4 linked regions of the Homo sapiens genome follow. The protein of the gene in region 4 interacts with the protein of the main gene of each other region in a pairwise test. Each region holds a gene or a part of one and is shown on either strand. Other genes may lie near its edges.

What was found.
Region 1: the proteins of BACE2 (region 4) and ASAH1 interact in binary tests that used the Homo sapiens proteins (3 or more experiments, as listed by UniProt).
Region 2: the proteins of BACE2 (region 4) and MATK interact in binary tests that used the Homo sapiens proteins (3 or more experiments, as listed by UniProt).
Region 3: the proteins of BACE2 (region 4) and SCAPER interact in binary tests that used the Homo sapiens proteins (3 or more experiments, as listed by UniProt).

Annotation. Positions count from the first base shown.
Region 1 is NC_000008.11:18,081,104-18,088,066, forward strand, and holds the start of ASAH1 (acid ceramidase isoform a preproprotein), read right to left. Parts: upstream 3,005-6,963; 5' UTR 2,956-3,004; coding exon 2,878-2,955; exon of another isoform or gene 2,814-2,877; intron 2,094-2,813; exon of another isoform or gene 2,019-2,093; intron 1-2,018. UniProt on the Homo sapiens protein: Lysosomal ceramidase that hydrolyzes sphingolipid ceramides into sphingosine and free fatty acids at acidic pH.
Region 2 is NC_000019.10:3,777,460-3,783,398, forward strand, and holds the end of MATK (megakaryocyte-associated tyrosine-protein kinase), read right to left. Parts: intron 5,761-5,939; coding exon 5,667-5,760; intron 4,214-5,666; coding exon 4,148-4,213; intron 2,339-4,147; coding exon 2,239-2,338; intron 2,159-2,238; coding exon 2,074-2,158; intron 1,993-2,073; coding exon 1,919-1,992; intron 1,729-1,918; coding exon 1,533-1,728; intron 1,137-1,532; coding exon 1,050-1,136; intron 964-1,049; coding exon 724-963; 3' UTR 514-723; downstream 1-513.
Region 3 is NC_000015.10:76,349,328-76,356,357, forward strand, and holds part of SCAPER (S phase cyclin A-associated protein in the endoplasmic reticulum), read right to left. Parts: intron 4,814-7,030; coding exon 4,622-4,813; intron 1,962-4,621; coding exon 1,910-1,961; intron 1-1,909. UniProt on the Homo sapiens protein: CCNA2/CDK2 regulatory protein that transiently maintains CCNA2 in the cytoplasm.
Region 4 is NC_000021.9:41,241,157-41,248,186, reverse strand, and holds part of BACE2 (beta-secretase 2 isoform A preproprotein), read right to left. Parts: intron 6,369-7,030; coding exon 6,240-6,368; intron 4,812-6,239; coding exon 4,677-4,811; intron 2,226-4,676; coding exon 2,124-2,225; intron 1-2,123. UniProt on the Homo sapiens protein: Responsible for the proteolytic processing of the amyloid precursor protein (APP).

The sequences.
Region 1 (6,963 bases), on a different chromosome or scaffold from region 4:
AAACGATCCTCATTCTTTAGCCCCCAAGCTTTCCCCTCCCCATGTTTCCTGGAACGGATGCCACCATTCGCCCAGCGAAGCACTTCAGCAATGTGCAGGTCACGCTGACACCTCACTCCCTCATCCTCACCCAACGATTCCTTCAGCTCATTCGCCCTCCTGATTTTTTTCTAGAACATCTACTTCTCTCCCTCACCCCTGGCGCCACCATCCTTCAACGCACCCTGTTTTCTTTTCTGGACTAGTCTCCTCATATCTACCCTTGCTGACCTCCAATCCAGACTCATCTTTTTAAAGTGAAAATGTTATCTTGTCTAAAACCATCTAATGGCCTCCCATTGGCTGGTTCCAGATCCTCCCATTTTTTAGGATAAATTTCTGAATCCTTAATAAGAGTCTACAGAACCCTGGATGATGTCATCTGGCGCTATCTCTCCAGACATTTCTTGTGCCACTGTCTTCACCATCATCTCTTAATAGACTCCTAAAAAATTCAATAATGAAGAATAACTCAGGAGGACCTTCACATAGGAATATTGTGAAAAGCCTCAAAAACAAACACACAAAAAATCCTTACAGATGTTCTAAATCAAATGACTTGTTTCCAATTTAAAGCTGCTTCTCATTATTCATATTTATTGAAAGTACTTTTGAAATATCTTTTGTTACCATGAGGCTATAGTTTATCATATAATGACTCCAGTTGAAAAACTGCTTATTCTTCTCAGAGAATGAAGTCACTAAACTTCTGTAAGGTTCTAAAGGTCCTTCAGTGCATGGATCCCAGGATTTTCCAGGCCAGTAAAAAAAAATTAATGAGGCCTTGGCACAGGAGGGTCCAAATTTTTATTCTGCCAAATGGAGATGTTAAAACAAAACAAATTCCATGCACATAACATCTACCTCTGCCGTTATTTTTAAGAACACGTTTGCAACAATGAAAACTTGAAGTCCATACAATCAGAGTAAAGATTAACATTCTAAATTAATAATTTTAGTTTTGCATTCTTATTTTTCCAGTTTCATTGAAAACCTGTGAAAACAGCTTCCCAAAGTGACACCAGTGGCCAGACTAGACTTTGATAATCGCTGTTCTAGATAAGAACTATTATATCCATTGAGAGGTTGTTAATTCTTCTTCTGAAAATAGCTATCAAAATACTTTTGCTAGAATAAATAAAGCTATTGAGAAAGAAGAAAAAACAGCCTCCAACACCTGAAACTGCTCTGAGTCCCACAGCTATCTCTCAATATTATTACAAGCCGATCTGACACTCACAGCCAGGTAAGCTCTGTTTTCCTCCTGGACATCAACAATCCCACAGATACCTACGTCGGATAAGATTATTCTGAGACATGACACACCAAGACAAAGCAATGCCACTTGAAGATTTTCTCTAAGAACAGACAAAAACAAGGGCACCTGCAACGCACAAAACACCAAACATCCCCTTCTCGTGCTAAACAGAATGGCTGTTCCTTCTTTACTCAGTCAGAATTGCCCCACCTTCTAACAGCATTCTATCTACAGCAAAGCCCGGTTCCTCAGTCTTACCCCAAATCATGCAACCGAAGTTCAAATTCTGTAATGGGTTTTTTTCTATAACCTACCGTCCGTCGCTCATGGTGTGTGGTCTCCTTTGCCTCAAAGAACACTAAACCCAATTTGTTCAGCTTATGGTGTGTTCCTGGTGGTCTTTCAATGAAGGGCCCTGACAGTATCAAAGTATCAAAGTCTCTCCCAATTCCCATAAAACCAACTACCGTCAAGCAAATTAATTCCCTACCCACAATGGAGCAATTTTATTTTAAGGCCTTTAATCGTGTCCACATACATGTTCTGTGTATTTTCCTATTACAGGAAAAACTGTATATACTATTCTGGATTCTACTTTTATCTGCTGAACATTATATCAATTTTAATGGCTAAATCATATCCCACCATGATTTTAAAGAATTTCTCCTTACAGGTATAAAAGAAGACAATGCACATCTTGCTTCCACTTTCAATAACCTACCTAAACTATTCAAGACCATCACCATCTAGCCTCAGGCCAGATGCGCCAGGTTCCTACTTATCCGATTCTGTTGGCAAAGACAAACGCAGTCTGATTGCTTTATAAAGAAATGAATTATGAAAGAGTACTGGGCGTCAAGAGGCTCGGACGTTACGCATGTTCAGTAAACAACAGTGTAACCTCTGGCTAAATATTTTCTCACTCTAGGTCTACTTCCTCTTCTGTAAAATGAAAGAGTCACGCTCGTCCCTCACTGTCTCTTGCAGTTAGGAAGTCCGTAGCCCTGTGACTTGCTCGTGGGAAAGAGCCACGGGACAGGCGATCCCATGACTTGGGTGCAAAAGGCCACAGGGGGCCCTTTGGGGCCTGCTCTGGGCTGCTCGCACCGCCCAAGCTTGGGACCACTCAGCGTTTCCCACGGCCCTGCAGTATCCTGGGCTGAACTCCTGAACTTCTTCGGGAGAAAGCACCTGACCATCAGGCAGTCTGTCCTTGATTGAGTAATGCACACAGGTCCACCGGAACATTTTATTTAAACACTTCAAAATGCAAGGGCCTGGAACTGGTTATTCAAGTACACTCACTCAAATCTAAGAATGTGCGAATCACACCCAGGTATCCTGCAGAGACTAGGATTTCCTTTAAAGGAGTTCTAGTTGCAGGTAGCACCGAATCTACCGAGGACGGGGTTCGCCAGCCCGCTCTGCACCCACACCCCTGTGCACGAAACCACAGACCCCCGTAAAGAAGCTGCCCAGCACGAGGTGTTCCTTGTACCCGCTCGCGCCGCCACACCTGCGCCTCCATCCGCGCCCGCACCTGCACGCCCCTCTCTGCGCCTCGGCTCAAGCTCACTCACCGGCGGCGCGTGCTGCGCGACGGCACAGCTGACGGCGGCAGCCAGGAGGACTAAGGCGACGCAACTCCGGCCCGGCATCGCTCTAGCAGCCAACGCCACTCCCCGGACTCCAGCAGAGGCAAAGAAGAGCCGGCTGGGCCGGGGGCAGGCCACGCCCCCTCCGCCGCGTGACCCGCGACCTGGGACCGCACCATTCCAGGCAGTAGGGGGAACGCTCGGAGGAGGCGGGACTGGGAGGAGAGGACGGGGCTTTTCAGTGCCACGAAAAGGGTGGCGTAGAGAAAGAGAGAGAGCCTTCCAGGCTACCTGCAGAAGGAGAGTCGCGATCGCCTTTGGCGCGTGGCGTGATCCATCCCCCTCCCCCACCGCGGGCAATAGTCGGACCGAGCCGGAGCCCCGCCCCGTAGGTGGGGCCGGGAGCTTCACCCGTGGCGCCTCGATGGGGCGCCTCTAGCAGGCGGGTGCAGCCTGTCCCGCGTACCCAGGCGTCCTCGGTACCCACGAAACGGATCCAAAGAGTCTCAACACTAATGTAACATCCCACCCTGACCCATCTTTGCCCTCTGAGAAAAGCGGCCCGAAATGAGTTGAGTTATTCATCCCCACCGCGGAGTCAGGGACAAGGAGCAGTTGAGTGGCCGAGGAGTGAGAGAGAATCGAATCCACTCGGGTCCTCCAAGCTGTTGGTTACCCACTTGGGCTTTCACAGCAAAGCTGCCAAATCCCAGAATTGAGGCCTCGGTGAAAAGCGCGCTGAGACTTGGGTAGGAGGCCCGGTGGGACCCGCGAGCTTTCTCTCCCAGCCCGATGCAGCAGTTCATTAAGCGGCTGTGTTTCCTCCTAACTGGCGAAGGACTCAGGTGGGCGGAGCAGAGCTCAGCTTGGGAGGAGGCGGACGCGAGTAGCTCGGCAGGGGGACTCGCTTGGCTTTCGTGCCATCCGTGGACACAGTCGCGCGGGTAGGTGACCGGGTTGGATTTCAAAGTCCAGCAGGAAATCCTGCCCTCTGGGTTGCACTTCCTGGATGAGCCTCTGACGTCTCAAGCAGCATTGTTTTAATGCTTTGATGAAGCTCAGCACGCTGCCGAAATCTCGGCAGTATTTTTTCTTTTCTTTTTGCATGTGAGAGAAAGGACAACAAATTGCAGTTTTATCCATTTGTATTATTTCTTTAGAAAACTCAACACTCTTTTTGTTGGAGGTGGGGAAATGAGAAGGTGATGTTTTGTTTTGCTTTTTTTCCTATTTTTTTTTTTTAAAGGAGGAGAAGATGACAGTGTTCTCCCTAAGGATGAAGTTTGACTTTTGAAACATATCACATGCTTAAAGCACATTTGAGCTCCTGCATGAACAGTAAGCTAGCAGATGGTAGAAATATTCTTTATTAATTCAAAAAATATTTACTGCGGACCTACAATGTGCCAAGCATGTCTCCTGACACTGGGGATAAGCAGTGAACAACAACAAAAAGACAAACTTCTTCCACCCTGAGGCGTATGTTCTCGGTGAGAAATGGGCAATAAACATAATACCTAAGAAAATTATACGGGATGTTAGTGACAAATGCAGTGGAGGAAAAGGGAGGCCAGGGGCATCAAGTGTGGAGATCAGAAGTGGTAGAGTTACAATTTTAAATAAGAGGGACAGATAGACATGATTAAGGAGGTGAAGTTTGAGCAGACAGTTGAGGGAGACCAGGAAGCTAGTTTTGTGTGTGCCCAAGTAAGAGTATTCTAGGCAGAGACAGCAGCTGTTAAAAGGCTTTAAATGGAGAATGTGCCTGGCATGTTCAATTACAGCAGACGTGTGTGGGTCTGGCACAGAAAGAACAAGGGGAAAAGAAGAAAGAAGTATTAATAGACAAAGTATTTAGTTAAGGAGAGCAGGGCAAATTCTGTAAGGCATTCAGAGCCATTTCACTCCGGAAAAAAAATGTGTAATATTGAATATACGTGTTAAATGTTGAATCTATGGAATTACCTTGGAGCTTAAAATGAGTGTGCGAAGAAGAGGATTCCCATCTTTTAGTTGTTATTACTAAATCAAATAGCTACTTGATTGGAAGATCATTCATCTTCAGTACTCTTGAGAGCGATTTAAACATGTCACCAAGCATATTTTTTTCCCTACTGGAGGATGTTAATTGGTGATTAGGTAGTCTAGCAAAATCAGATTCTTTATGGAAAAAATTTGTCAATTGACATACTATTCTTAGGCACCACTTTCGCAGAACTATGCGTCTAACTTTCAAAGGTCTATTATATATTATTAATACTCTTTTCAGATAAAATATAAATCTAGTTCCCTAAAATTAAACCATTTCATGCATGTCTTTTTTTTCTTACACATATATCTTTATTTTGCCTACACCATTCTTTAATACTAGAAATGTACAGAAAGTCAAGGCAAGGTGTGTGTAGGAGACTTTGCAGTGGTTTTTGGCATACTGATCTGTTCATAGAAAATGGTATTTAAATGTGCAAATGCATGATTATGTCCACGGAAAGGGTGGTTCATACTGCACAAAAGCATCAAGTTTAAGACTTGGATAACCTGTTTCGTGTGCAAGAGTCGGGATATGTAATCAGATTGTTTATGGAATAGCTGAAGTTCTTGGCAAGCTGTGGACTTCCTCATCTCCTACCTAACATTCCTAGGTTCCTGAGGTGGAGCCTTGATTTAAAAGGGTTGCAACTTAGCCACCCCACCCTAAATGAAACCTATCATGTATAACATCACATTACCTGGAACAGGTTTGACTTGATTTAGTAAAACCGAATATACAAAAACGTGTACTAAAAGGTCAAGAGATAGAGAAATAATGTTTCAGTTTGAGAAATAAACATTTTTTTAACTTTAAATATTGACTTTTTTATGAATAAGGAAGCTTTTTATTTTACAGGTCTTTGTGGGAAGAAACAAATCACAAAAGCAATTAAGAGAGCTCAAACAATGGGTAAGAAAGAGCACCTCAACAACTGTATTGAGCTAGCTGAAATTTTGCTCATTATGCTTTGTCAAGAACTTTAATTATCTCTTTACAGGGTTTATGCCAGTTACATACAAGGATCCTGCATATTTCAGGGACCCTAAAGTTTATAACATCAGATATCCGGAATAAATTCCATCACATTACCACCAGTAAACTTATTTTATAGTAAGTGGTTGTATGACGCCAATACTGACTCAAACCAACCTTTGGATAGAAAAGTGTTTCAGGAGTGAGGTAAAGAATGACACTTCCCCTTCATACCAATCAGTGTTCATTAAGCAGATCGCTTATTTAAAATGTTAACACTCATCACATTTTACATATGTTGAATGAAAGTGGTTCTGGGTGATAGTCATTTATATCTGGTCCACAAATAGCTCATACAATGTAGTACACCATTCAACTGAATGGAGTTAAAACTGCTCAGAATGGTTTTCTAACTAGCAAATGTAAGTATGCCTGGTTAAGAGATCTTCCCTTTGTAGGAATGTTACACTGGGATGCATAGTGATGCTGTCACAGCAGGACAAAACATTCCTAGACAACTCTATCCTCAAACCAGTAGTGTCTTTTACATAAAAAGATGATTTACACCTAATAGACAGTGAATGTGATAGACATGTATGTATATATGTATCAGTTCTGAGTTCCACCAGCCTATCCCAAACACACTGGATTACCAGGCTTGTACTGTACTCAAAATTAAGGATTTGCTAAATTTCGTGCAAAGGACTCTAAACTAGGGGAGAGATTATTGTTTGTGTTGCGTTATAGTTGTGTAATAATTAAGGCTGCCAGATTTAGCAAGTACAAATGTAGGACAAATTTAAATTTTAGATCATGTTTTGCAAAGGTACTGCGTGAGATCCAGCATTTTATCTGGCAACACTAGCTGTAATGTACTTCTAAAAAATTATCACCTAAGGATAATTTTAATGACTCAGATAAATTTCATATAAATTTCTTTCCACATTGTGAAAATAAGGCTATTCTAGCTTTTCTAATACTTTTTTTTTTTTTTTAATAGAGATGGGTCTCACTGTGTTGCCCAGGCTGGTCTCTAACTCCTGGCCTCAATCATTCCTGCCTTGTCT
Region 2 (5,939 bases), on a different chromosome or scaffold from region 4:
TGTTGGCAGCCTCCCAAGATCCTTTAAGCCTGGGACCCCATGGGTTGGGAAAGGGTGCCCACCACTGAATACCACATGCCCTGGGGGACTGCAGTGGGGAACCCGTGGGTAATGGCAAGTGGGTCCCCTGCCCAGAATCCCCCAGGGAACGGTGTCCCCACAGTGGCCAGCAGGCAGGTGCCAGCTGGGCAGATCCTCCATGGGCCAAGATGGGGAGGCCCCCGTGTGCAGGCATGTGGCCACAGGAGGCAGGGGCTTGGGGCCGGTGGGTGCCCAAGACTCGGCCAAGGATCAGTGGGGTCCCAATTAATTGATCCCATCATGTGGGCTGCAGTGGGTTCCACAGAGTAGGAAGGTGACCACTGGGGCTGGGGCACACAGGGCATCTAGGGGGGGTGGACCTCTAAGGGAGGACCCAGGATGCCTGGCGCCTGGGGGTGTCCGAGAGCAGATCACCAAAGGTGGCCCCCGGGGAAGAGGGCACGGGGACACAGAGACACACAGGCGCCTAGAGTCCTTAGAATCCGTCTTTATCGGGCGATCATCCTTCGCAGGTCTGGGGTGTCCACGGGCCGCCCAGAGCCCCCTACGTGGGCCAGCCCCTGCTGTGGGCACCAGGAGGATGACTTGCCCGCCTGGACCCTCCTTGGGCCTGGTCAGTGCCCCCACGCCGCACTCTCCACTCTCTCGGTCCTCTGGGGCCAAGGGCCCCACCGGGTGGGGTCAGGGCTCCTGGCTTCGGGGCGAGGTGGAGCCGTCGGCGTCCTGCCCTGAGACGGAGGCTGGGGCACCTGCACTGCGTAGCTCCCGGGCCAGCTTCTCGGCCAGTTTGCGGAAGGGTGGCCGGCGGGCGGGCTCTGCCTCCCAGCAGCTGCTCATGAGGACGTGCACGGGGCCTGGACAGCCCTCGGGGGGTTCCATGCGGTACCCCTTCTCCACGGCCTCCGACACCTCTTTCAGTGACTGCGGACAGCAGGCGTGGGCAGGGGTCAGGGCCACAGCCTCTGGACCTGCCCGGAACCCAGTGCCTCCCTGGGACCCCCGCTCACCATTTTAGGGTACGGAGCCCGTCCATATGAGAAGACCTCCCAGAGCAGCACCCCAAAACTCCAGACATCCGACTTGCTGGTGAACTTCTGTGGGGCCCGAGACGGGGGTGAGGAGGGACCCCTCAGGTTTTCTGCTCCAGCCCCTGCTTCCTCCAGGAAGCCCTCCTGGGTTGACCCTCACTCTCTGGTCTTCTCCTAATTGAGTCCTCCCCCAACGCCGCCCGCAGTTGAGTCTAGCTCAGCCTTAGTGCATGAAGGAAGCCTGGTTATTCTTCCCTTCAGTCCTGAGCCCACGCCTTTTTCAGAGCTGGAGAAACTGAGGCCCAGAGGGGGGCTACGAGGAACAATTATGGGCCAAGAGCTTCCTGGGGAGGCATAGCCATTGCCCTTGGAGTTTCAGAGAGGCCAAGGGACATACCCAGGGTCATACAGCAGAGCTGGGGGGACCCCAAAGCCCCAGGGGTATGTGAAGGCAGGGCTCACCCCGTGTTTGAGAGCCTCGGGCGCCGTCCACTTGACGGGCAGCCGGCTTGAGTCTAGCCCCTTCCGCTCGGCTTTGGCCAGGCCAAAGTCGCTGACCTTGGCCACCAGGTCCTCTGAGACCAGGATGTTGCGGGCGGCCAGGTCGCGGTGCACAAGCTTCTTGCTCTCCAGGTACTCCATGCCCTCGGCCACGTGCCTGGGGGTAGTAGGGGGCAGTGGGGGCTCAGGTGCCAGGATGCCCACATTCAGGGCTCAGAAAGCTCGGGGTGCCTGGGGCCACAAGCTCACAAAGCCTCCCTGCCCCGTGCCTCAGTTTCCCCTTGATGGATCTTGGAATCTGCGCCCCGACGACCCCAGTGCCGCAGCACCCTGAGAGTCCCACTTACAGAGAAAACTGCAGGAGCTGAGCGGTGTTCACGAGGGCTCGACCCCGGGTCCGCAGAAAGTTCACCAGGTTGCCCTGTTGGGGGTGGGAGATGGCCGCGGGATGTTGGGGCTGCTCCGCTGCGTGGGCCCCCTCCCCGCCTGGGCCCCGCCCCACCTTGCTCACGTGCTCCATGACAATGTACAGCCCCTGGTGCAGGATCACGCCCAGGAGACGCACCAGGTTCTCGTGTTGCATCTTCCTGGGGGCGGTGGGGTGGGCGTGAGGGCAGGGCTGGGACCCCCCCCGTCCCACGGTCCCCAGCCCCACCCTGGGACTCACGTCATGACGGCCGTCTCGTCCAGGAAGGCCTGGGCTGTCACATCACACTTGATATTCTTCACGGCCACCTTTTGCCCCAGGTACTCACCCTGCAGGACAGCTGGGGGGTGGGGGTGGGGAACGGGGTGAGATCAGGACCCCCAACAAACAGGGACAGAGAGACAGACGGACAGGCCCGCTCACACCGGTGCCCATGTAACATTCACACAGCTGCGGGTCCCCAGACCTTGAAACACAGACCCCATGCTCCTCACCCCTGCCGCCCTTGCAAGCTCCAGACCCAAGATCAGAGAACCATCTGGCTCTGGCGCGGTGGCTCACGCCTGTAATCCCAGCACTTTGGGAGGCTGAGGCAGGCGGATCACCTGAGGTCAGGAGTTCAAGACCAGCCCGACTAACATGGAGAAACCCTGTCTCTAATGAAAATACAAAACTAGCCAGGTGTGGTGGCACATGCCTGTAATCCCAGCTACTCGGGAGGCTGAGGCAGGAGAATCACTTGAACCCGGGAGGCAGAGGTTGCAGTGAGCCAAGATTGTGCCATTGCACTCCAGCCTGGGTGACAGAGCGAAACTCCATCTCAAAAAAAACCCCACAAAAAACAAAAACAAAGAGAGAACCATCTAAGCCAGGGGTCTGTGAACCCCCACCCCCTCGGGGCCAAATCTACCTATCACCTCTTTTTGCAAGACCCTTCAGCTCAAAATGTTTTTTGCATTTTTATTTTTAATTAATTAATTATTTATTTGAGACGGAGTCTTGCTCTGTCGCCCAGGCTGGAGTGCAGTGGCGCCATCTCTGCTCACTGCAAGCTCTGCCTCCCAGGTCACGCCATTCTCCTGCCTCAGCCTCCCAAGTAGCTGGGACTACAGGCGCCCACCACCACGCCCGGCTAATTTTTTTTTTTTTTTTTTTTAGTAGAGATGGGGTTTCACCATGTTAGCCAGGATGGTCTCGATCTCATGACCTCGTGATCCGCCCGCCTCAGCCTCCCAAAGTGCTGGGATTACAGGCATGAGCCACTGTGCCCGGCCAACATTTTTATTTTTAAAATATTGATACAGGGTCTCACTCTCTCACCCAGGTAGAGTGCAGTGGCGTGATCACAGCTCACTGCAGGTTCAAATTCCTGGGTTCAAGGGATCCTCCCATCCCGGCCTCCTGAGTAGCTGGGACTACAGGCATGCTCCACTGTGCCTGGCTTTTTTTTTGTACAGATGGGGGTCTCGCTACGTTGTCCAGGCTGCACCTGAACTCCTGAGCTCAAGGGATCCTCCTGCCCCGACCTACCAAAGTGCTGGGATTCCAGGCATGAGCCACCGTGCCTGGCTGGTTTTTGCATGTTTAAATGGTTGTAAAAACAAATCAAAAGATGAGTGCTGTTTCAGGACATGTGAGCATTACACAAAATTCAAATTTCTGGGTCATAGTTTTCATGGCCACGCCCATATGTTTACATATTGTCTGTGGTCGCTTTCACTCCACAAGGGCAGGATTCAGTAGTGGTGACAGCAGCTACCTGGCCCACAAAGCAGGAAATATTTACAATCTGGCCTTTTACAGAGAGTCTGCCGACCCCTGATCTAAACCCCAGAGCCTTCCAGAATAATAATTTCAGGGAATGGTGTTTCAAACATTCCAAACAGTGGGACTGACCATACAAGACCCTGGCAGTGTGAAGAAGTCACTAACGTTGACTGAGCGCCTGCTTGAGTTCACTTACTCCTCATGACAGCTGCCATTACCCCCTGTTCCAGAGGGGGAAACTGAGGCTCAGAGGATTTGCACGTCTTCAGCTGCACAACTAGTAGGTGGTTAAGTATGGGTTTGAATTCAGCTCTGTGACTCCAAAGCCTCAATACGCACCTCCCATCTTCCTTCAGCACCCCCAACCCAGTCCGCCACTCACCTCCAAACTCTCCCTCTCCGATCTGTGCTCCCAATGTCAAATGCTGCAGGTTCAGTAACCAGCCCGCTGTGGAGTGAAGACCCAGTCAGAGGGGTAATGGGCCCCCTAAATCCTCCCATTGGGGGTTCTACTTGGTGAGAGACTAGGTGATGTCTCTCACAGTGCTGCAGCTGTGGATACACATTTGAGTGGCTGCTGGGCCTGGCAATGCCCCTAGGACATATCAGAGACACCCCACTCCTGGTACCAATTATTGTTGTTGCAAGCAACAGAACTATCTCAGGTTGACCTGAACAAAAAGGGGCTTACAGGAGGGATAGTGGTGTGAATAGTCAAAGCTGGGGGCCTGCCTGGCTGAGACCCTCAGACCCCACACTTGCCCTCCAGGAACTCCCAGTCAGGCCCAAGGGGTAGTGCCAGGAAACACTTCAGTTCTCAGAGATAAGAGCTGCCCTTTTCTCTTTGGCTCTCTTGTCCCTCCAAATACCCTCTGGGCTCTTCCCTACACAGTTCTTTACCTCTGACCACCCCAGAAACACACACAGAGCAAAAAAACACAACATGGAGACCCATAAAGGTTCCAGAATATTCCAGGGCTCTAGCCTCCCTGACCCTTCTCCCAAGCACTCCTGTGTTGTCCCCTCCACTGCCCTCTGGTCGGTTCTGCAGACGTTCTCTTCTCCCTCCAGAAAGTGCCCCCTCCAAATGCCACGGTCTTAAGAGATCATTGGCCAGGGTGATGCTAGTCTCCACCTGGATGCCATCCCTGATGGGTACAGACTTCCCCAGCAGAGAGATACTTTCAAGGAGACAGACATGGGGTCAGAGGAGGCATTTGCTTTTGACCTTAAATATTGAGGATTTCACTACTTAGGGGCTGGAAAAGCATTTCAGGTGAAGGGAACAGAATATACAATGGCTCAGAGGCATGAAGAAAACGATGATCACAGTTGACCTGGGAGGGGGTGGATGTGTGGAGGAAGGGCTTTGCAGATGAGGCTGGAAAGGTGGCTCAGGCCATGCAGGCAGGTTCTGGAAGGTGGTGGAGCTGCTGGGCCTCTCTCCCTGGAGGCATGGTTTCATGATAGAAAGATAACCTTGAGGCTGCACTCAAGGCCTGGGCTGGAAGGGGGACTCGCCCTCTGGGAAGGAGGCGGTCTGATGGGAGGGCCTGAGGCTGGGCTGTGGGGAGGGGAGGGGAGAAGATTCACCAGGTCTTGGGAACCTGGCCAAGGAGGGAATGCTGGAGGATGGGGTGGGTGGAGGTTCGGGGCCAGGTTTCTGGCTCAGATGGTGGATGATGGTGACAGATGAGTGGCGAAGCTGGGGACCTATTGAATAAAGGACTGATCTGTGTCTGTGGGCACCCCCGAGGCAGCCCAGGTCTTCTATCCCATAGCTGGGCATGGAGACAGGCTTGGGTGATCTGGCCTCAGAGGTGCGGGGCCCCAGGGCCCTTCCTCCCGGACTGGGCTAACGTGGGTAGGGAAGGGGGTCTGCCCTCCTGGGCGTCCCCTACCCCTGGCCAGCTCCTCCTCGGCCGACTTGGTCCCGTGTTTCCGCTTTGGTCTCACCAGCTTGGTGCAGATAGCGCCCTTGTCCTTGCTGTAATGCTGCAGGATGGTGGGACAGCCATGAGCCCAGCCCCAGGGAGGGGAACCCCAGCATCCTGTTCCGTTCCCGGGTGGCCTCTGGGTGGGGTGGGTGGGACCGGGGAGGAGGAGAAAGGCTGGTTTCCATAGGAACGGGAAAGGAGGCAAGCCAAAAGGAGGGGGAGTCCTCTGGATTGGTA
Region 3 (7,030 bases), on a different chromosome or scaffold from region 4:
TTAAAACATGAATGTAGTTTTAAGTATATCTTTAAAATTATTCAAATATAGCACAGCCTATCTAACAAAGCAGTAGGAATGAATGATAGGAGCTTTACTGGCCAGTGACATAGGTAAAGTAAACAATTGCAGCTAGACAGGCAGTAGGTATTTGAAAACCAAAATTCTTCCTGGGCAATAGGAATGTGGTATTACCAAGAGCTGCTTTTATATTTAAAGGTTTACCTGGACAATGAACTCAAAATATCTTGAGACATTTTATGAGGACTTAATCTAGGCAAAAGGGGAACAAATACCCAAGGTGCAAACTGGCAACTTAGGCATCATCATTAAAAAAAAAATCAAGCAACATATTATGAGCTGTCATTAACATAGTGATGACCCTTTCTGAGCAAAGGAGAGACCAATTCCCCCTTTGCTGTTCTGTGGGTTAAGCCTACTGTAACTGGGGGAAAGCATGAAAATCAGGGAAGATGGTCCCTTGGAAAAGAAAGAAGGTTGAGACTTCCACAGGCCTCAGTCCACCAAGCAGAGAGAGGCAGCTTCTGGGACTGTGTCTTCCAGACAATGTAACAAATTGTGACTCATCTTTATGATCAGGAGAAAGAGTAAGAAAAAAATGCTTATACTTCTTAGTGGCAAACAAAACAAAACAAAACTGCTGTACAATTGAAAATAAATACATTAGATTTTTCTAAGCATTTTAATTTATTCAAAATGAAATTGTTTTGTAAGAACAGTAACACATTTTGCTGATTTCTCCCCAAGTATCCTCCAGTAGTTAAAACAAAACAAAACAAAAAAAGGGCTGTGACTGGGTCAGGGCAGAACTGAACTTGCAGACTAATTCTTGCTCAGACAAATGGTACCGACAAGGATGTGGACTTGAATTTCTGAAAAGTTGCATAGCTTTCTGTTTAACTTTTCTGGGTGCCTGAGTCAATAAAACGTCTTTTTTTTTTCTTTTCATGATATTGTAATAGCTTTAGTTATATTTTCTTCTGTGCACTTTTCAACACCTGTCCACTGTAGAGGACTTTGTGTGTGTGTGTGTGTGTGTGTGTGTGTGAAAGAGTCCAAGGTAACACCCCCACCCCCACCAAGTAAGGGTTTCTTGGTGGGTGCCCTAAAGGGTCCTGCTGGGAGTGTACCTCTAAATGGCCACTTTAAAGACTATCAAACTAATGGAAGAATTGAAGAAGATCTGGATTAGGTTCTCATTCATCAGAGATGCTGTCATAACACCCAAAGAGCAACTTGTACTTCTCAATTACAGTCTGGGTAGCAGAATATTTAAAAAAGTAAAAATGTGGTAAAAATTCTACATCTCTAACTCTGATCACAGCAAACACCCCAGCAGGAATGCTATAGGAAAAAAAAACAACTTGTAAATCTTTTGCCCTGGACTTTGCCAATTAGATGACTTTTTCTCCATGTAAAACAATTATTTTCAAAACAAAAGTTCAACTACTTGAACTTGGGGGGAAACTGTGGGCTACTATTACTGATAACTTTATTCTGAACATGGATAAGGAACCAAACCTATGTGATTTCAGCATTTATGTGAGAAATGTGGGCCAGTATTAATGATCTGGCTCCTGTATTACAAAGCGGCTCTTTAGTAATTATTTACCATTTAATATATCTTGCATGAGATGATTATAAATTATACAAAGATATTTGTGCTTTTCTTTTACTCCCACAGATTTCTATACATATTTGGATGCATTCATGCTTCATGACAAAATCGATTTCTTTACTTACTGAAATATACTTGGTATCTGAATCTCAAATATTTTTAGGTTATGTATAAAATTTTACATATAATGTAGCAGTTCCAGAGGAAAGGATAAGAAAGATGTCCATTTGGCTAACAAACACATGAAATTTAATTTCAATAGAGACATACCTTTGGGTTGGTAAGGCTGGTTTTCCGCTTGACCTGGAGTCTGTGCCAAATCCTGTATGAGGAGAGAAAAGTGTTTTTCTATCAATGCTATGAACAGAGAATTTCACTAAGGGTGGCTTTAAATATACTTCTGATTCATGCAACCACTTTTGTATGAATATTTTGGGGCCCAAATATAAACGCTGAAGAAACTGATGTTACGTAGTGCAGGTTCTCATAAATAGTAATGACTTACATCTTGCTAAATTATCACCAGGGGACAACTTGCTGCCTACTTTGGAAATTACAACTTTTTATCTAATAAAACTAAAATTTAAGCCAAATTTACTATCTTAAAATATCAACAGGTGTTGATCATTTTTTTAAAAAGTACAAATATGAAAGCTCTATGTATTCTGCAGCTAAATCTTAAAGTCTGGTAATTTTGCATGTAGATGGAAAATGAAAAATGTAATATAAAATATGTAAATCTTCAGAAACCTAAGACAACCAGCTGCTATTTTAATATCATTTTCTAGTAACTCAGTTATAATGTAACACATAAGAGACCTTGAGGAACCACATTATAAACTAAAATCCTATCTATATTCATTCTCTTGAGCACAATTATTTATAGAAAAACACTTGATTTAACTCTACAAGTCTAATATGCTATCTGAAATAAACAATATAAGAAATTTTTTTTAGCATTTACAAAATTTATGTTACAGATTTTTTTTGTAAGACAAAGGTAGACTTAGTACTTTGTGATCAATATCAGATAAACACAAGAAATATATATAATCTTTAGATCCTGATATCATTTGTATCATTATAAGTCATTGTCTATGCAGTTGAAAACATAAGGAACTAAGCTGATACAGATGTGAAATTGGTTTCGCTCAAACATCACTGTCTCTTTGTTGAAGCCTCTCTGCCCACATCATAAAAACCTGCACATCATCTCCCTGAAGTCCCTAGCTCCTTTTCCTGCCTTACTTTTCTCCACAGCACTTATTGCCATAGCACTTAGCATAGTATCTGACATACTATTTGTTTTACTAATTTTTTTTTTGTCTTTTGCTTGACTCTTCTCCACTTTAATGAAAGATCTGTGAAGGCAGGAATTTTTATCTGTTTTATTTGTTGCTGTATTTGCAGTGCCCAGCACACCTTACACACTCAAAAATTACCTGTTCAATAAAAGAATGAATAATCTGAATTTAGAAAGAGCACACTCTTAAAATTATCCATAATGTATTTGTATTTTCTTTTTTTTTTTTTTTGATGGAGTCTCGCTCTGTCACTCAGCTTGAAGTTCAGTGGCATGATCTTGGCTCACTGCAACCTCTGCCTCCCAGGTTCAAGCTACTCTCCTGCCTCAGCCTCCCGAGTAGCTGGGATTACAGGTGCCCACAGAGACGGCGTTTTACTATGTTGGCCAGGCTGGTCGCAAACTCCTGACCTCAAGTGATCTGCTCACCCCGGCCTCCCAAAGTGCTGGGATTACAGATGTGAGCCACCACACCTGGTCCATAATGTATTTTCTATTTAATTTAATCCTAAGGCTCTAAAAATATATGAAGAATCCTAAGTGTTGATATGATGTTATATACTGTAAAATTTTCTTAAGATATTAACTATAAGACAGTTTTTGAAATCCATATTTGTAGATCTAAATATCTAATTTAACTTTTTTTCCAGAAAATAAAACGTAGATTCAAACAGAACAATTAAGCCGAAAACAAAACTTTTCTAACATAATTGATCTAGTTGCGTTTATTAATTATCTAATACAGGATAGTTTGGAAAACATAAACTTTGAAATGTTGTCTAAGATGAAGAGGGCTCGGGGAACTCCTTAGCTATCCTCTAGTTCCCAGCCAGCTGGGTACTATCATATCCTTTTGACAGAGATAGATGTATATTCACCAGAATATGGAAGAATACTAATACAGAACTCTGCTTTCTGTTTCATTATTCTGAAGACCAGAAAGTACTGTCTACTCATCACATGTGTGTCATGGAGCAAAAACACATCTTATGGTGGAACATGTGAAAGAAATGGGAGATTTTCAGCAAATAATGCTCTATAATGACAAAAAGAAATTCACAGGATGAGTTAGTTAGTAGCAAATGTTAAAGCATAGTCAACTTGGTTTTTCAGCTGACTAAGTTAATTTAGATGTGGAAATAGTACTTTGCTATGGCACTAATTCTGATTCTAGCCCTACAGAATTTAAAATATAAGGCTGTACTTAAAAGTTGTTTTACATTAAAAAAATCAATATAACAGGTTTTTATTTTATACATATAAGAAAATCATATTTATTTAAAAATGTACAAATAAACTAATTTTAATTCATCTTTCTTCAGTAATTATCTATTTCCTATAGTTAGAATAAAAGCAAGATAAATACAATAGTTAAAGCCTTAAAGAAGTCTGGCAGTCTTTTAAAAACATTTCCTGAGTACGGGTTACCATTTCATTAACTAGAAAAGTATCCTTTCTTTGAAATCCTCCAAGTAGAAATTATACAACACCCAATCGCAGTTCCAGTAATATTTCAGAAACTATGCTGATATTTTAGAAATCAATTTTGGAGCACATAAATATGTGAAGATTTTAAAAGGTAGTATGGAAGGCAAAAATAAACAGCTGGCTTACTTTTACATTTCTGTCGCATTAGTTTACACACAAAGCTAGACAATTACGTATAATGTAGAAGGTACCTGAATGAAAGTGGCCAGTAAAACACAGCTCATCTCTTGCTCCAGAATGATCTTGTTCTGATGGTTGTTGTAACAAGCAGCGATAAGTGAAGGGAACAGTACTTTGATCAGCCGTGGGTCACTGAAATACTGGAAGGGCAACTGGCAGAGCTTCTGCAGCACTGTGGGGTGGCGGCCGGACTGCACGATCACCTGAAATGGAAGAGCAGCCCAGGTCAGCTGCCGAAACGCCCCAGCCTGTCCCTCACCCACCTGCACAGTGTCGGCTAGTACCATGGAAAACATGCTGAAGGAGTGTAAAGAAAAAGACTCCTGACTCCGTACCAGAGCTTAATTTAAGTGATACTTGAAAAGAGCAGAAAAAAAAAATCTCATTTCCCAACTTAAGGAAAAGATCCTGAAAGTTTTGCACTCATTTAAAAGTTATTATAATCCACGATTAAAGGTGTAGCTGCCACGGAGTAAGGACGCCTATGAAATGGATTCAGAATGCACATTGCTTTAACAAAGTGCTCCCCACACCCCCTTAAAGCAGAGTAGTCATATTCCTTAAAACCTGCAAAGAGTTCACTCACAAGAAAGTAAGGCCCTGCCCACTGCAGTCTTCCCTTAGCTTAGCTCACTGAATACACTCAATGCAGACAGATCTATTCTGTATGCAGGCAGGTCCAAGAAAGAAAAGGTAATTCTAAGGAAAATGGGAACAGTTTCAAAAAAAGTTATAGGCTCCAAAAGACCTTTCCTCCAATCTATACTTCTTATCTTTGTTTCCATCAGTGCCACTGAGTCTAAAAGGAGAACTGTTTAGATAAATGAGACTGTTGTCTTGAAGCAGTCTTAAGTTTACAACTGTGTACATTTAAAGAAATAGGGCAATGCAACGAATGGGCTTGCAGGGAAGCCCTCTTAATTTACTCCCTAGGCCTCCATGATAAACTAAGAAATGTCAAAATTAGATCTGTTTCAAGTAACCTTGATTAGACAGTTCTAATATGAAAGAGCTGGGTGACCCAAAGCCCACTTCGTGGTATAGGAGGAAGCTCCTAGATGGTTGGGAACACTGTAAACCTAAGGTCAGAACTGTAAATTGTACTTGGAAAAACACAATTTTACAGGTACACACCCAGACAGGACTACATTCAAATTAAAACCAGAAGGAAAGAATGAAACAGCAGAGGCAGGAGTAACATAAATTACAGGGATTTACAAGTTTTCAAAGTACTTTTAACAATACTTTAAGAACACACTCTCAGATGATAATGCAGTTTAGTTTAAGAACAAAATCAACAAAGTAATAGTTCACATATTTTCGTTCAATAGCTAAAATGACATCAAAAGCCTTTAGAGACTGTTGATAGGGACTTGTTAATACCTTCAAATCCAGAAGGAATTTTAAAGACTTGCACTGTGTGACAATTCAGCACATGGCTATGTGCTGCCATTTCTGACTCTGGCTGAGAAGAATATGCCCTATCATTTACTTTATTGATAAAGGCATTTACTTAAATCTTTATTTTAACTATTAGCTGCAAATTTTGTAACACAGCCAAATGTTCCCCACATTAGAATTTATGATGATATGATTATTAGAAGTCTTCTTTTTTTTTTTCCCCTCCTTGGACAAAAATTAAGAACAAGTTTTTTCTTTAGATCTTCATTGTTAAAACGCTATTATTGGAAGATTTGCTAATTGAAAAATATTACACTGGCCAGCCTGGCTGGTGCAGGTACAATGTTAAAGACAACTCCTGGTGCCTGGCATATCAGCACAGAACATGAAGAGCTTAACTGGAACTTACTCCATTTGGGCTCCTGAACCTCACTGGAGTGAGGCAGAGCCCCTTAGGGACCTGTTGGTTCCCTCAAGGAACAGAGCTAGTTATCAGCTGCCGTTTACAGAGCGAGTTTACAGAGATGACCAGCAGTGTAGTGAGATGACTTGCCAGAAGCCATTACTTTTAAATCCCTGGATTGCAGAAGATGCAAATGGATGTAGGCAGTTTGGTTACCATTGGAGTTCTAAGGAGCTTTACCCATTGGACCACGTATGACAGGACTTAACCAGGCTACAGGTAAGGAGTCTACTACGACTGATGAGAACCCCCAACCCTACCACCCCATGGCTTGGTTATGAGCCAGAATGGGACATCTAGTCTATGCTGTCTTTCCAACCACATTTTAGACATTGTGGAGACAGGATCAGGAGGTTCAGGAAGGGGCCAGCCCACAGCACTAACACTCAGTGGGCTAATTCAGGTGGGCTTGTGGCATAGAGGGTGGCAGTCTGATGTCATGAGCACAGATGAACCGTCAGCTGAATTGGACTAAGCACTACCCTTTGGGGCAGGGGGCAGGGCTGGAAATGCAAACAGCCTGACCTTAATGATCAGGGTTTTGAGTAGGGTTGTC
Region 4 (7,030 bases):
AGGCGCTGGGCCTGAGCCAAGCGGGCACTGCGGCAGGGTCGGAACGAGCCCAGGTCTCGGTGCCTCTGCATGGGCTGCACCTTGTACAACACTCCCCGCTCCAGGTTCATTTCTAAATACAGAACTCCAAACCCTTAATTTCTAGAATCCCATCTGAACAATCCATGCCAGGGGACAGAGCTCCACGTTTTTATTGTCTTTCACTCTCTGAAGCCAGCCCTCCCCTTAACCAGAAGGAAACCCACGCCAAGAGGTTTGGCTTACTGGAACTGGTAGATAAGAAAAACAAACACAGCTTTGGTCCAGAGACGGTAAGCCAGACACACAACGCGCCCTTGTGATGCTTTCCCTGCCCAAGACAAACAACCTTCCCATGTTTCTCCCTCCTGACGCAGGCACCGAATGAAATCAGAGGATAATTTTAGACAACGCAAACAAATGTTGTGATCTCATTCCCTCTACCTCGTGGTTTTCGGCTCAGCGCATGCCACGATGAGCTCGGGAGTGCGAGCGCCCCACGGCCCCGCCGCCCCGCCTCTCACGGCACAGGGGTCTGGCCGGTCCACGACGTGCTGGATTTTCACACTGCGCTTCAAACACGTCCTCGGGATGGTGGACAGACTTTTCCATTCAGGATATGAAGTTGGAAGATACTCCCGTTAATTCTGCTGAGGGCATTTTTACTATTTAAGAAATGAGGGTATCGCTCCTTATTTTAAGTAGGGTCTGATTTTGAGCAAGCGTTCTAAATTTAAGGCACTAAAAATGTTGCCTGCCACTTTCTCTGATTCAGCAGATAGTGGGAAGGATGGAGACTCTGCCGTGGCTTCAGCTGCAGCTGCGCCAGTGGCTGGCCGCCTTGAGACCTGCTGCTTCGAAAAGAGCCCGCGTCCTTTCCTGCCTATTCCCCCTCTGTGTCCGTTTCATCCACGTGCCGCTCTTCCCGCAGCAGTTACAGGTGTTTGAAGTTCAGGACAACCCAAAGCCCTCTCCCGCTTGTCACGTTTCTGCTATGAGCTGTTAACAAGGCACCCACCATACGTGCTCCTATCGGCCACTCTTTGAATTCAGCCATCACAGCAGAGTAGCGGGACAATCAGCCCCACGCCAGGGCCGCAGTACAGGCTTTGTGCAGGAAACACTTTCTGACGATCTCACAAGGAAGGCCCAGATGCTATGAGAACACTCAGGCAGCCAAAAGTCATGTTCCTCTCGCATCTGAACAAATAGCAGCAACGCCGTGGTTGCATGTTTCATGGAAGCTCCAAGCATCTACTAAACACCAAGCATTTGACCCAAAACTCACAACCACCCCTCAGTTGAGAAGACGGAGGCTCTCAGAGGGCACAAAACCCCTCGCCAGGCATCCAGCTAAAAGTGGCAAAAACTACACTAAATTTAATTCTATTTCATCCCCAAAGCTGTCCTGTATCCAATGTTTATTGCCCTGAACTGACTGGAAAGTTGGGGTCACACCAGAAATACCATCAGCCAGGTCCCGAAAAGGCATATTGTCCACAATCATAATTTTAATTGTATTTCAGAGCATGGCCATAAAATAATTATTAGATTGGCTGATTGTTCTTTGTCTTCTGTGAAAAAATGGTATTCTTTTATACAAACAGAAGTTAAGATACCAGTGCAGGGATGAAAGCCAAAAAGGAGTAAAATTTTTGGTTTGTTTTGTTTCAAAGGCTATAAATTTATTCTCGATTTATTGTTTACTCTAACATAGCTATATTAGCAAGTATTGTTTTTTGCAGATTAAAAAAATACTATACCAACTGAACTATTATTTGAAATACTAGAGGGCATTGCACATTCAGATCCAAGTCCTCTGAGGTTCATGAAGGTACTATTTGCTAACATCAAAGAAAGGGACTGTGAAATTAACAAGTAATAGTTGAAACAAAACCCTTCAAAATATAAAGATTTTAAATACATATAAAATATATTTACATATTACACCTATACTATTACATATAAAATATACAAATACACAATATGAAAATTGGAAATACATGGCGCAATAGTTCAGAGATGCTCAGAACACGCAGTGCTGCTCCTCAGCAGGTGACTGTAACTCAGCAACTCGGGGACCCGTGAGTGTCCCGAGGACTCACCAGAGATGCGCGGGCCACAGCTTCCACCACCGCATCAAACACCTTCTGGGGCAGGCGCAGCAGCGTGGTGCCACTGTCCACGATGGCCTTGTCTGCGTTATACTTGAACCGGGAGAGAAAGGGAAAGGTGCGTGAGTGACAGTGGCGCTCCCCGCCCCACGTGGCTCTAGCCGCCATCACCATCTGTCTGTTACACACAAATCCAGGCAGCCACACCAGTCATCATGGACTGTGTAGTTCATTCATGTTCTCAGAACTGGGGAACCAGGGGTCTTCCAACCCAACACGCTCACTTCAGAGACAAGGAAATGGACCCAGGAAAGGGAGGGGACACGGCCCAAATTAGCAAATCAATAGCCCTCCCAAGGCACAGCTCTTTCCTTACTCAGAGGTGCCCAAGTTCCTTCATTGAGGACCTGCACTCCTGCCCCAGGGCAGAGGGAAGACCTATTTGTCTTTTGAGGCTGAAATATATTAAAAGCCATTTGTACAAACTGTACACAAATCAATTCTCTATGACCTCACTAACGAAGAGAAGGATGGACAATTTTTCAACAGACATCCCATATTTGCACTGGGAACAGAACCAGGGCCACAGTGCATCATAGACTGAGACACACACAGGCGCTGCCAGCCCTGTCCTCACCTGCAATGTTCTTCATGTGGCAGAGGGAGGAGAATGGACACCAGTGGCCAACACCAGATGAGCCACCCCAACCACTACGGGCACAGCTGCATAGGCAAGTCTACCCAGGGATGGAATGAGTCCTGGGTGACCTGATCCTCCTGCCTTAAGGCAAATCCATGAGTCACATGACCAATACACCAATCGGGTCAAAAGGAAATAAGGGAAGAGGGGTTCAGAATTTTAAGAAAATGAAATATACCAATGTATTAGTATTCTTCACAAATATTAAATTATTTTCAGTGTAAAAACAAACTTAATTTAAAATCTAACTTAGCGTGTTCATAAAATTTTCAGTTTTTTAATATGTAAGAAAAGTAAATATGTAAAATATGCAAACTGAAATGTTGCGCTAAGATGTCCTGGGATTTGTTGTTTGTTCTTTTGTGGGGTGGGTGCATATGGGGTGGGCAGGAAAGAACCTAGAATCTAAGAATCACACCTCCAAATACAGGCTTTTCCTCTCTAATACACACACACACACATACACACACACTCACACACACACACACACAGAGGTTTTGTATTTTGTTTTACATTCGGACATTCGATTCTACCACTGGGTTCTTAATTGACAAATAAGTGCCTCTTGACAATAAACACAGATTTGCAATAGAAGCGACCATCATTTTTATAATCTTTAGTTTCTCAGAGGTGTCAGGCCTCTGAGCCCAAGCTATGCCATTGCCATCTTATCCCCTGTGACTGTGACCTGCACCTATACGTCCAGATGGCCTGAAGCAAGTGAAGAATCACAAAAGAAGTGAAAATGGCCGGTTCCTGCCTTAACTGATGACATTCCACCACAAAAGAAGTGAAAATGGCCAGTCCCTGCCTTAACTGATGACATTACCTTGTGAAATTCCTTCTGGCTCATCCTGGCTCAAAGGCTCTCCCACTGAGCACCTTGTGACCCCCACCCTGGCCAGCCAGAGAACAACCCCCTTTGATTGTAATTTTCCACTACCTACCCAAATCTTATAAAGTGGACCCACCCCTGTCTCCCTTCACTGACTCTCTTTTCAGACTCAGCCCACCTGCACCCAGGTGAAATAAAAACCTTGTTGCTCAAACAAAGCCTGTTTTGTGGTCTCCTTACATGGACGCGCGTGACAAGAGGTACCTGCATATATGAGAATTGATGTTGGGATGTGATGGGTAATACGAACAGAAGTGCTAACAGGTTAGAATATAATGACATCCCCATGGTTTTTATAAAGCATTCTAAAAGTGCTATAGAAGACTGAGGCTCTCACAAGTCATCATAATCATAATGTCATAATGTGTCACGAACAAGCCAGAACTCAGTGAGAAGGCATGAACATGGTCCTGAGGTTTGGTGTCAGAGCTCTGTATGTGGCCACTTTAGCACTACCAAGCCACACACATCTATACAGCATGACCGTTTTTTAGGGAGAATTGGGTACTCTGGGGGCCAGGCTAGCTGTGAATGGAGGATAAAAGCTGATGATCTTTTCGGTTTCATTTTGCTTAATTTTCGTCCTTCTCTGTCCTACACTGATTAAAAATCTGTTTATTTCAACCTCTTAAACTGAGCTTAGGGACCATCAATCCAAGATGAATGAATGGTGAAAGGTGTAGCTCAGATAGTCCTCTTCACTCACCATTTAATGGTAATTTTGCCCTATGAAGATAAGTGGTTGGGAGGATGCAATATTTGGGGTGGGGAGGGAGGACAATTAATTGATTTCAACTTACTGTACAGCAAGGCCCTGCATCTTTTCATGTAATGAGCCTTTATCTTACGAGGTAATGTACCTTCTATTGGCATCTACGGGTTCCAGCTGGCATATTTAAGGGACCCAGACATACACAGAAAGACACAACAGAGACCATAGCATAAATACCTCTCTGCAGTCCAGATTAAGGCTTTGGCCTCCAATTTCCAATTTCAGAATTTCTATCTGGTAGTACCACTCTTCCTTAATAGGGGTATACCAGATGTCTCCTTTATACAAACTTGGTTCAATTCCACCCAAGACCTGGGACAGGAAATATTTACAGGTATAAGAGAAAAAATACACAGACATATCAACAGGTTACACAGAGAAGCATGCACTTGTAAAGAGAAACTTCACTGCAATCAGGGCTTCTACTTCGTGACAATGTCATGAAACAAATATCAATGCTTAAAAAATAAACAAGGAGCCAGGCGCGGTGGCTCACGCTTGTAATCCCAGCACTTTGGGAGGCTGAGGTGGGCGGATCATGAAGTCAGGAGTTCGAGAACGGCCTGGCTAGCATGGTGAAACCCCATCTCTACTAAAAATACAAAAATTAGCCGGGCAAGGTGGCGCGCACCTGTAGTCCCAGCTTCTCAGGAGGCTGAGGCAGGAGAATCGCTTGAACAGGGAGGCGGAGGCTGCAGTGAGCTGAGATCGCGTCACTGCACTCCAGCCTGGGCGACAGAGCGAGACTCCATCTAAAAAAAATAATAATAAATGAAATAAAATAAAATAAAATAAAACAAGGAATTTTATGGGTCCACGTCTGCAAAGGTCAGATGGTATTAGGCCCTCATCTAATCAAGATGCTTTGGAGGTTTCTCTTATCCAAAGAAAGTACATACAAGTTTAGCTTTACAATATTGAGATTTTTCCTTCAAAGAAATGCAATAAAACAGTTAACCACACTGACTGACAATTATTTAGTTCCTTGGAGGTCAGAGAACAGAAGATCAAGCACTTCCCTGATCAAAGCTTCATTGTGCAAAATCATAAAACATTTCCTCATAAATCCTATGCTGTCCTCTGCCTGGAAATGGTAGCAAATGAAAGTAGCTGAGGACCGGGGTGCAGATCCTGCCTCTCATAGTCAGACAGCAAAGGGACTGGCAGCACCCCCTTCTAGTGCATTCTTCCTGTCCCCTACTACTTTTGACGTCTGGGTGCCGGCCCCTGGAGGGAAGCTCAGGCTCCAGCACCTCCGTAGTGCTGACGGCCTTGATTCTGTTTCAGCAGCAAACACTTGTGCTGTGGTGCGTGTGTGCCTGTGTGTGTTGAGAGAGAGAGAGAGAGAAAGGATCTACAAGGGCCCCTGTTTCCCTGCCAAATTTATGAACTCTCCTTTGGCCCCCTACCCACAGTCAGGTCCACTCACCACGCCCCCCACCGCTCCTCACTTGTCCCTCCCCCACCCACAGAAAGCAGTGCCCTTCCAAGGGCGGTAAAGAAAAGTTTTAATGGAATTCGGAGAAGCGATGAGAATCATCCTTCCAGATGGCAGGATGACATAAAGGATTGCCTAATTTTAGCCATTTCTAAAAAGATCTACTACAAGGAGGATGAAAGTTTTACAGTACCTACGCACACCTACATGCCTAATATTTCTGCTCAGGTGTTTAATAAAACAGAAAAAAACAGCCCATCCATCTGTGATTTTTCGCCCCTTTAAGACTAAAAGATACCCACAAGACTACCTCCGTTGGTCCCAGATCCAGCAACGGGCAAGCCGGCTCCACACATCTGCATGGAGAAAACGTTGGGGATGTTTGCTTGTGTCACCAGGGAGTCGAAGAAGGTCTCCAGAGAACTTGATGGCTGCGGGAGGGCGACAGAGAGGGGCACCCGCTTAGGACTCACAGTGTAGACATGGGTCACCCAGTGTAGACGCCACGCGCCACAGACATTCCTGGTGTTTATACTCAATTTTTTCATGGTTCAACAGTACACCAGCTTGTGATTGGGTCTAGGAATTCAGAAAGCCCCAGCAGAGCTTCCCACTGGTTGGCATTCTTCCTTTGGGCACGGCTCTGTTGTACAAATAAGATCATATTTCTGGAAGCCATTCGACGCAGTCACATCTATCATCATGACTGCCTTGTGAGGGGGTGTGAGAAGCCGTGGAAGTAGGTTACCGTGGCAGGTGGTGGATCCTAATCTTAGGCATTTGAGAGTAAGGAGAGAAGAGTTTCTCTAGGAGCTGCCATGGCCGCAGACATCTTTGTTTGCCTGTCAGCCGCAGCTGTCCACCATGCAAATGAGAGGTGGCTGACCTGGGAGGACAGTATCCCCCGGACCCCAGAGCCTGGGGTGAGGCTTAGCTCTGCCAGATGAACTCTGGCAGGAAAGAAGCAGGAAAGGCACAAATCTATACTCCAGAAGCATAAAAGGCTTCTTATTCCCCCAAGGCCAGATTTCAGAAGCCCTCGTGTGCTCTGTGTCTCCCTCACATCCAGCAAGACATACAGAGGATGCCCTCA